2 linked regions of the Homo sapiens genome follow. The protein of the gene in region 2 purifies or fractionates together with the protein of the main gene of each other region. This does not show direct contact. Each region holds a gene or a part of one and is shown on either strand. Other genes may lie near its edges.

Region 1 (4,092 bases), on a different chromosome or scaffold from region 2:
ATATCCTAATAATGCACTGAAGTAGGTACCAGCTGATTTTCCAGATATTGAAAGTTTGCTGCACAACATCAGCCTAGAGATAAAGGGACATGTAATGTCCAGTAGGAAACAAATCAGTGTATATCATTTACACGACAATAAATCCTTCATTTCCCTTGAAATAAGATATGTAAAGTAGCACTTAGTTTAATACAAGTTTTGTTCTGCTGTAGACCTAGCTGTAAAAAGCCATTCATGCAAAAAATTACTTCCAGTTTTAGCTGGATGTTTAAAGGACACTTCTCCTGAAAACAAGTCCCTTTCACTTAGGGAAGGGAAAAAAAAAATCCCACTTAGCCAGTGCCGGCTGAGAGTGGAAAATACAAGACTTTGGTGTTTGTAGGGCATTTGCCTTAAGAACCCAGAAGTAGCACTGAGCTCACCTCTAAAGAGGCAGAGGGCTAGACGCGCCCTTGAAAATTTTAGGAATTTTTTCAGAAAAAGTACTGAGAATCTTTATAAAATTGTATTCGCTGGCCAGTTCCCTCCTGGGGCTTCTATTGGCATCATCTCTCCTTCTAGAGATGCCTGCTCTGCATCTCTAGTCTCAGGCCACATTTCCCCCAGCCAGCAGATCGTTCCTCCATTAGCAGTCACTTTGCAGCTCCTTCCCCTCTGTTCTAAGGGAAAATAACTTGTATTATTAAGCTTTCCTATCCCCATAGGTCCTTTCTGTACATATTATTTCTAAACTTTTTAAATATGGGAAGGTTCCTGGATTAAAATATAAGACAAAACTCCTCTATTCTAAAGAACTCTAACAGAGGTGTTGGATGCTGCTCACCTCCAGTCTTCATACAAATAATCTAGAGAATCTTGTGCCATGGCCTTTTTTGCAGGGCAAGTGTGAGCACTGGAATGAGATTCACTCAAGAGGACAAGGAATGGAAGGAATGGATGGCTACATCTTAGACCCACTCCCAAGTTAGAAATCATCGTTCCACTGAACTTGCTCCTCTGAGATCTGGCTCTGTCCTACTTTTTCCACCTCATTTATTCCTAAAAGAAACCCCTTATTTTCTTACACCACTAAATGTTATGGATGTTATGATAAGCAACATGGAAAGGGAATGGAAAGAAAGGGATAAGATATAGGGGAAATTCAGAGCCTTGGATGGTACAGAGGCATTCAAAATGGAGGTTTTCTAACATCTGTCAGATAGAAGGCAATATTTATGATGAAACCTGCAGTGACTGACTTGCCTTCCCAACACAGGATTCATCCTGACATGAGTGGAGAAGATGCTGACAATTAGTTAAGAGTAGACAATGATGACTCTAAGATGATATCTGTGTGTCATTGTGCTATATAAAAACTGGCCAATCACAAAGCAATGTGACAACATGTGCTTCTGCTACCCTTGTTTTCTCAGTACACCCTTCAGTCTGGCCTGAAGAATGCCACAAGGAGTCATTTGCATTCTTATTGTGATTGTTTAAGGCAAAAACAGCTGTTAAAGAGCACTCAGGGTTGAAGGGTGGATGCTGAGAATCAGAGAAGTGCCCCCAATGAGTCTCCAAAATGAATAACAGCAGCATCACTGGGACCTTTTCTGTCCCCAAACTTCATAGCTTCTGCTCAACTGCTGTGAAACATTGCCTCCAGATGCACACTGAGTCAAACATAGACTTGTACATTGTGAGAAATGTGCAGAAATGTTAAAAGGAAAATGATTGTGTATAAGCAGTCCTTCATTTAGGGGTTTACAAGTCAGTGGTATGTTATAAAGACTTGTGTAGGGGGAGCCTACTCTAAAGCATGCCCTTCAAATGAAGTCTAGTGTGTTTCTTTCTACTTCTCTGAGCCAGGAGAGCTGGGAGTGTTACTCCAAACCCATTTGTTAGGAGGTCAAGAATGTGACAGAGACAGCTAAGCTAGGCTTGGTAATAAATGAAAGATGTAAGAACCTTAAGAATAAAGTCTTCCAAGTTGAGGCTCCGGTAGATAGGAAATAAAGGAAAACAAAACAACTGCCCTTCCTAGTCTGGGAGGTCAATCAGGATAGCGGGCCCCTTCAATTCAGGGGGTTGTTTGCTGTCCCTGGTGCTGAAAACATACACCCAGGCTTCGCTGCAGAATTTACACTCTGGGATGCGAGAAGCAAGAAATCCCGCTTATCAAACTAAATACTCTTTCAGCAAAGGCTGATTTCAGGTGACAGGCCTCAAAACATGTTCCAAAAGTCTTTTTTTTTTTTTGTATGTGTGTCATTTCAAACAAAAATAGCCCTGAAGCAACCCTAGTTTTCCTGTGGAACAGTTAATGCGTGCCAAAGTACTGATGTGGTAGCTCTCCCAAAATTCCCTCATGTTATTCATGAACCTTAAAACCTTGGAAAAGAAAGATTGTAAACAGATGCACCATTGGGGTCTACAGTCCCCACCTACTGATTTCTTTTTCTGATACCAGTTGCAGACAATAATTTATATGGCTTGCTATGACTAAATGTTTCTGAAGGAAATATTTGGGTAAAACTTTGCCATGAACTGCAACATGGGCCTCTGAATTCCTCTCCTTTCCTAATTTTATTGTCACATTCTGAGAAAATAAACAGGGCATCTATTATGCTAAAGAGAAAGTATAAACTCATAAACAACTACATTCTATCTGCCTTTAACCCCCCACCAGGCAAAATACACACACACACACACACATACACACACACACACACACACACACACAGAATCTCAAAAAGTAAAGTCTACCTGAGAAATAACATGAATCTTCCCCCAACAGTACACAAATCTTTGCCAGAGAGAAGAACACTGCTATTTTCTTTCACATTCAGAGTGAGAATTTTCTTGCCCCAACTTGCTTTCCTTTCATTTTAATTTGACAGTTCCTCAAGCTAATCCACCATGGCCCCCACATAAACAAGAAGAGTTCTTGATGCTGTGAAGTGAGAGAAAAATAACATGAGTCATTTTCTGTTGCCTCCACATCTGATAGAATTGGAGGAGCCTTTACTTTGGGATATGAATACAATCAATCTTTTCTAGCCTGGAAAAGGAAGTATCCTAAGAAAGGCTAAACTCTCAGAGAAGGGGCAGATGGTGAGAAAGCATTGAAATAAGTTCTTGTTGTGCCTGTTAACATATCAGGTCAAACTTTCTCTACCTGGTGAGTTATTCCCCAAATGATATCTCTGAAATCCTTAAATAATCAGCCTTGTCTTTAGGAAGTTATATAGTGAAATGAGCTTGTTCAAGGAAGGCTTTAACAGTACTGTGAAGGAGGTCATCCCCTCCAGATTATCAGAATAAATTATGAAACTTCACCCTGAACCAGTGACTAAGCCAAATAGATAAAGCATCCCCCTGTCTCCTTGTATTTTTTAGAGCATTCTCCATGGCTAGATACTCAAAGTGAAAAATGCTAATGGCAAAACTTCTAAAAAACAGACACCAGCAAAAATTTAAGGAAGATATGCCTCAAAACACGTCTCAAAAGCGGCTCTCAGTCTCTCAGCTCAGCACCCAGCAAGACTGCATGCAACTGCCCAGAGAGTGGGCTCTATTATTTGTCTGGCCCTGTACAGTTCACCTTCTCCAATTTCACATCATAATTTAAAATCTCAGTGGTAACCCAATTTGGACTCTCATTTCGAAAGCTGGGATGCTTTTTGTCTACTGAACAGTAGTCCGAAACAGAGGTGTTGCTTTTCTACACAAGAAAAACAAAAATTGAGCCCAATCTTTTGTCATCAAGATTGCCTCTGTATGAGGCAAAAGTTAAAGAGAAAAGAGAAGCTGAGAGAGCCTGAACTTGAGCAAAATATTTGTGAATTTTCTAGGATTTGGGGTATGCAGCTTTATTCTGATTTCTTTCTGGAGTGATCAAAATACTTTTAGAAAATCATGTATAGCATTTTGTCAGATACACTGCAAGTGATTGTTGCTTGGAGATCTATGAAAAATAACATTTGAGAAAATTTTACTTGCCAAGTAGTCACTAATACAGAGTACTTATAATAGTGGCTTGTCATCACAAACACCTGGGATTTTTTAGGGGCTGTAAATGACAGAATACTGTGACTTTGGCATTCTGGCCTC
Region 2 (5,360 bases):
AAATGTGCATTTCTAGAAAAGTATGGATTTTGCATTGATTGAAACCTGGACTTCAAACCCAGTTCTGCTACATCTTAACCAGTGTCCTTGCAGAGCTAAAGTTTCCTCACCTGAAATAGGAATAAGACAATTCTGATCCCAGGGAACAGTGGTGAGGATTATGTGAGCCAAGCTATGTGAAAGTATTTGCATGGGCTCTGGGGTGCAGTAAATACTCCACAGATATTGGTATTCGTCTATGCTTCCAGCCCCTCTTTCTGCCAGTCAAGAAACAGTTGTTGAGCCTCCTCTATATGTGCAGCTGTGAATGTGTTGACGAGCAAGACAGACCCAGCCCTGCCCTGTGGAGTTCACAGACCCTCAGCTCCAAACTCTCCTTCTGCAAAGGCTAAGGCTAAATGGAAAGGGAGAGGCTCCTCTCTGGGGGCCTTTGCTCTTTTCCTCTACAATTTCATTTCTGTCTTCAACACTGTGCATTTCAGTCTCAACTTCCCAGTGACATCCTGGCAAGGCTGAAGCTCTCTCTTTTCAGCCTCATCTTCCACCTGATTCATTCATGAACTATGTTCTCCAGACGTACTCTTCCTTGTACACACCCTCATGTGATATGCCCATGCTTCTGCTATGTAGACCCCTCCCCTAGAAGGTCTTTCCCTTCGTGCTCTGACTGTCTTCTTGAAGTTCACAGCTCAGCCCAAATTCCATGCCCTCCCCAAGGCCTCCTGCAGCCTGCTCCTTGCCCTCTCTCACCCTAAGTTAGAAGTCTTCCTCCTCCTAGGAACTTTCAAAGCACTCTCTTGTATGCCATGTGACTTTTTGTCGTGCGTATCAGTTCAGGTTCTGGTGGTATCGGCCTGATTTGACTACGCATTCGTTGAGGATCTGCTCCTTGGGCCCCACAGTGTCTTGCACATTTTGTGTGTGTTCTGAGCAAACATTTGCCACATGGGTGAATGAATGAAGGCCCTTGGCTTTCAGCACTGCTCTTGGTTGTGGTGTGTTCCACTAACCAGTCTTCCTCCTCTGATATTGACTGGAGAAGGCCTGTGCTTTTCATTAGGATGCTGGCTGACAATGCAAAGTCTTTATTTGGTTTTCTTCCTTCTTCTCTTGGTTTCCATCTGACCTAGCGTTTGCTCCCTGCTGGGGAATTTTCCATTGCTTAGTGATCTACCTCTTCTCATTCTCTACTTTTGAGGTGTTTGGGGGTGAATGAGAAAAATTCCACAGAGCTGAGATGCCCCCAGATAGGATGTTGGCAATTCCTGCCCTGAATTCTCTCGAACTGGAAGAAACATAAAGCTGTCCAATGGGAACACATGCAGGAAGCACCTTGAATAGAAAGAGACCCTCAGGATGGGGAGTGATCTTGTTCCTCGGGGAGTTTTGTATTTATTTGTTTATTTATTTGCTTGACTGCTTCTTAAAGCATTTTTTCTCTCCCTTTAATGAAAACCTCTCAGAGGAGGCCCTGCTAGGGGAGGAAGCCAAGATCTGCCTTGTTAAAATAACATTAGGGCTCAGGGTTGGGCAGTGAACCCAGAGGACCTGGTTGCAGCTGCAGTGTGACGAGATTGAGGATGTGGGTTTTTAATTTGGCCTCTTCATCCAGCAGAGGAGGCACAGAGGAAAGTTTCTCCTGCAGTAGTAGGTACAGACACAGAGAACTGGAGGTAGTGGCTGTAATGGACAGCCCCGAGAAGGGATCAACCTTAATTCTTCTGCTGCATGGGACAGGGACCACGGTACAGCCCCAACTGTGCAAGGTTGGGGTGAACTGAGATGGTTTAGCAGTTAAGATTGCGAACCTGTGCACATTTACACTACTCATATTTGGAGCTACCTCTACCACTTATAGCTATGCAAGTTACATGACTTCCCTAAGCTTGCTTTCCTTAGCTATAAAATGTGGCTACAATAGGATGTACTTCGGAGGTCTACCAATCAGGGTCCCAGCAGGTAATAGACAGCACATACAAATTTGGTCCTTTGAGAAAAGGTTAATAAAGGGGCTATTCATAAAAGTGTGGCTCTTTAAGGGGCAATGTAGTATGGGTGGATAGTAATAGTGAGGTCTCTGTTACCACCTCTACGGCCAGATGGGGTCCAGCAGGAGGTGGTTCACAGAGCCTGGAGACGGAGAAACTGTGTGCAGAGGCCTGCTGTGGGGAACACCGGACAAAGCTTGCAGCCAGTGCAGGCAGCCCCGCCTCCTGCCCTTCCTCCCTCCCTCCCTCCCTCCCTCCCTCTTCTCCTCCAGCCAGTCTTTGCGGATGCTGCCTGCTGGTGGCACCTGACCCGGGTGACAGTGCTGGACAGTGTCTGACACAAATTCAGGCACTCAGTAGATAATGGCTGTTAATCATGATCATCATCATCATCACTGCTATTATCATGTCATTATCATCACCACCATTATCGTTACTGATGTGTCCTCCTGGGGCTGCTGCCACCCGGCTCTGACTGTGTCACATGCCCGTGGTGGGGGTTGACTCAGTCAGCCTCCAGCACCCCCCAGTGCAGTTCTGCTCAGTGTGTGCAGAACATTTTGAAAGTCCAGGCAGACAAGCTGTGGGGTGAAATGAAGCCACTGGCATTGTTATCCAGCTCATTGTCTTCCCTTTCTCCAGTAGGGGAGACTGCATTGCTGAGTCCTGGCCCTCTGAGGGGACGACTGTGCCTGAGTGCTGCTGTGCCACTGGGACCCGCCTCTGCCATGAAAGCCATGCCCTGGAACTGGACCTGCCTTCTCTCCCACCTCCTCATGGTGGGCATGGGCTCCTCCACTTTGCTCACCCGGCAGCCAGCCCCGCTGTCCCAGAAGCAGCGGTCATTTGTCACATTCCGAGGAGAGCCCGCCGAGGGTTTCAATCACCTGGTGGTGGATGAGAGGACAGGACACATTTACTTGGGGGCCGTCAATCGGATTTACAAGCTCTCCAGCGACCTGAAGGTCTTGGTGACGCATGAGACAGGGCCGGACGAGGACAACCCCAAGTGTTACCCACCCCGCATCGTCCAGACCTGCAATGAGCCCCTGACCACCACCAACAATGTCAACAAGATGCTCCTCATAGACTACAAGGAGAACAGGCTGATTGCCTGTGGGAGCCTGTACCAAGGCATCTGCAAGCTGCTGAGGCTGGAGGACCTCTTCAAGCTGGGGGAGCCTTATCATAAGAAGGAGCACTATCTGTCAGGTGTCAACGAGAGCGGCTCAGTCTTTGGAGTGATCGTCTCCTACAGCAACCTGGATGACAAGCTGTTCATTGCCACGGCAGTGGATGGGAAGCCCGAGTATTTTCCCACCATCTCCAGCCGGAAACTGACCAAGAACTCTGAGGCGGATGGCATGTTCGCGTACGTCTTCCATGATGAGTTCGTGGCCTCGATGATTAAGATCCCTTCGGACACCTTCACCATCATCCCTGACTTTGATATCTACTATGTCTATGGTTTTAGCAGTGGCAACTTTGTCTACTTTTTGACCCTCCAACCTGAGATGGTGTCTCCACCAGGCTCCACCACCAAGGAGCAGGTGTATACATCCAAGCTCGTGAGGCTTTGCAAGGAGGACACAGCCTTCAACTCCTATGTAGAGGTGCCCATTGGCTGTGAGCGCAGTGGGGTGGAGTACCGCCTGCTGCAGGCTGCCTACCTGTCCAAAGCGGGGGCCGTGCTTGGCAGGACCCTTGGAGTCCATCCAGATGATGACCTGCTCTTCACCGTCTTCTCCAAGGGCCAGAAGCGGAAAATGAAATCCCTGGATGAGTCGGCCCTGTGCATCTTCATCTTGAAGCAGATAAATGACCGCATTAAGGAGCGGCTGCAGTCTTGTTACCGGGGCGAGGGCACGCTGGACCTGGCCTGGCTCAAGGTGAAGGACATCCCCTGCAGCAGTGCGGTGAGTACAGGGAGGGCTGCGCGCTGGGATGGTTGGGAGTGTAGGATGAGAACCCCAGCCTGTAGCCCCCATGGGATGTGTATCATCCTTCCCCTTTTGCAGATGAAGTGAGTATATCCCATCCCATCTCTGAGTCTCATTGGACCCAGAGTGTCACCAAATATTCTGCAACTATGACATTGAATGTATAAGAGTCAGAGTGGGAGCTGAAACATAAATTCCCATCAGTGTACTTTTCTCTGCCTCATATTGGCTCACTAGTTATGACGGGGAGTGCTGGAAATAGGTAGGAATTGTGTCAAATGGATGTCGTAGGGACCGGGCATGGCTGGAGTCTAGATCACAGTGTGCTGTAGTGCAAGACACGTACATGCCCTTTGTACTCACCAAGCCTGCAAATAACTTTCCTGGGAGCTTAGAATAAAAACCATATGGTAGAAGGAGAGGAGAATGTGAGGAGTCATCCTACATTTGGGATAGATATGGAATTTCAGGAGAGGTGTGTTTTTAGCCCTTTGTATGTCTTTAGGAAATGCTAAAATGAGAGCACAGTCAGGTAAGAGTGCAGTGAACACATAGAGAAAGCAAAGCTAACTTAGAAAAGGGATGGGAAGGGACAAATTGTGTTTATTGAGCATCTTCTGTGTGCACAGTGCCTTGGAAGAGACATGTGAGAAAGTCAGGAAGCAGCCGGAGAGCAGCATGGGATGATGGGAGAGCTGTGGGGAGCCAGAGGGAGAGCAGGAGAAGGGTTGGCTTAGGGGTCTTCGCATGGCTGGTGGGTATGGCCTTGCTGGGTTACCCCAGGTGAAGCAGGGGACACAGACTCCTGCCTGTCACAGCCTAGCTCACGTGTGCCCCACCATGAAAAGCATCCCCCTTCTTGTGGCTTGACTCTGTTCCTCTTCACAATGGTCCTGCTTTTTCACTATCATTCTTTGGGTGACTTGGAAGGCTCAGCTATCAGCATCTTCAGTGTTCTTGTCCTTTTCCTTTTATAACTGTGCATTTTAAAGATTATGAACCTAGTCTGAGAACATCAATTCTCTAATTTTAATTTGGGGAGAAGAAGAAAGGAAAATGTATCCATTGGACAGAAGTACGCATCCATACTGATGTGATTCTTGACTCCTTAAACTTTGGTGGAGTTCCATATTAGGAAATGTATTTTGGTTGTTTAAAAAAGTGTAAATTTCCTTTCATAAAGTATAACTATGTGCCAGGCAGATCTCAGTGGGGACTGGCACCCTCCCCAGCCAGAGTGTGGAGAGGCCATCACTCTGGTCTTTGGGATTTGGGTTGGAGATAGGGAAGAGGGAGGAGAAAGATGGTGCCCTGGCATTAGGCTTAAGCTGTTTTCCACTGTCAAGTCTTCCAGGCACTGGGCCAGCTGAAACTAAGAGATGTCGTCTCTTCTTGGAGGTCTTGAAAATCCAGGAGTTCCCTGATGTCACAA

Evidence for each region.
Region 1: the proteins of PLXNA4 (region 2) and NTRK3 purify together in Homo sapiens (affinity purification with western blotting, with the first as the bait; one study listed by BioGRID). This does not show direct contact.

The regions. Positions count from the first base shown.
Region 1 is NC_000015.10:87,861,300-87,865,391, forward strand, and holds part of NTRK3 (NT-3 growth factor receptor isoform a precursor), read right to left. Parts: 3' UTR 1-4,092. UniProt on the Homo sapiens protein: Receptor tyrosine kinase involved in nervous system and probably heart development.
Region 2 is NC_000007.14:132,506,050-132,511,409, reverse strand, and holds part of PLXNA4 (plexin-A4 isoform 1 precursor), read left to right. Parts: intron 1-2,630; 5' UTR 2,631-2,716; coding exon 2,717-3,904; intron 3,905-5,360. UniProt on the Homo sapiens protein: Coreceptor for SEMA3A. Necessary for signaling by class 3 semaphorins and subsequent remodeling of the cytoskeleton. Plays a role in axon guidance in the developing nervous system. Class 3 semaphorins bind to a complex composed of a neuropilin and a plexin.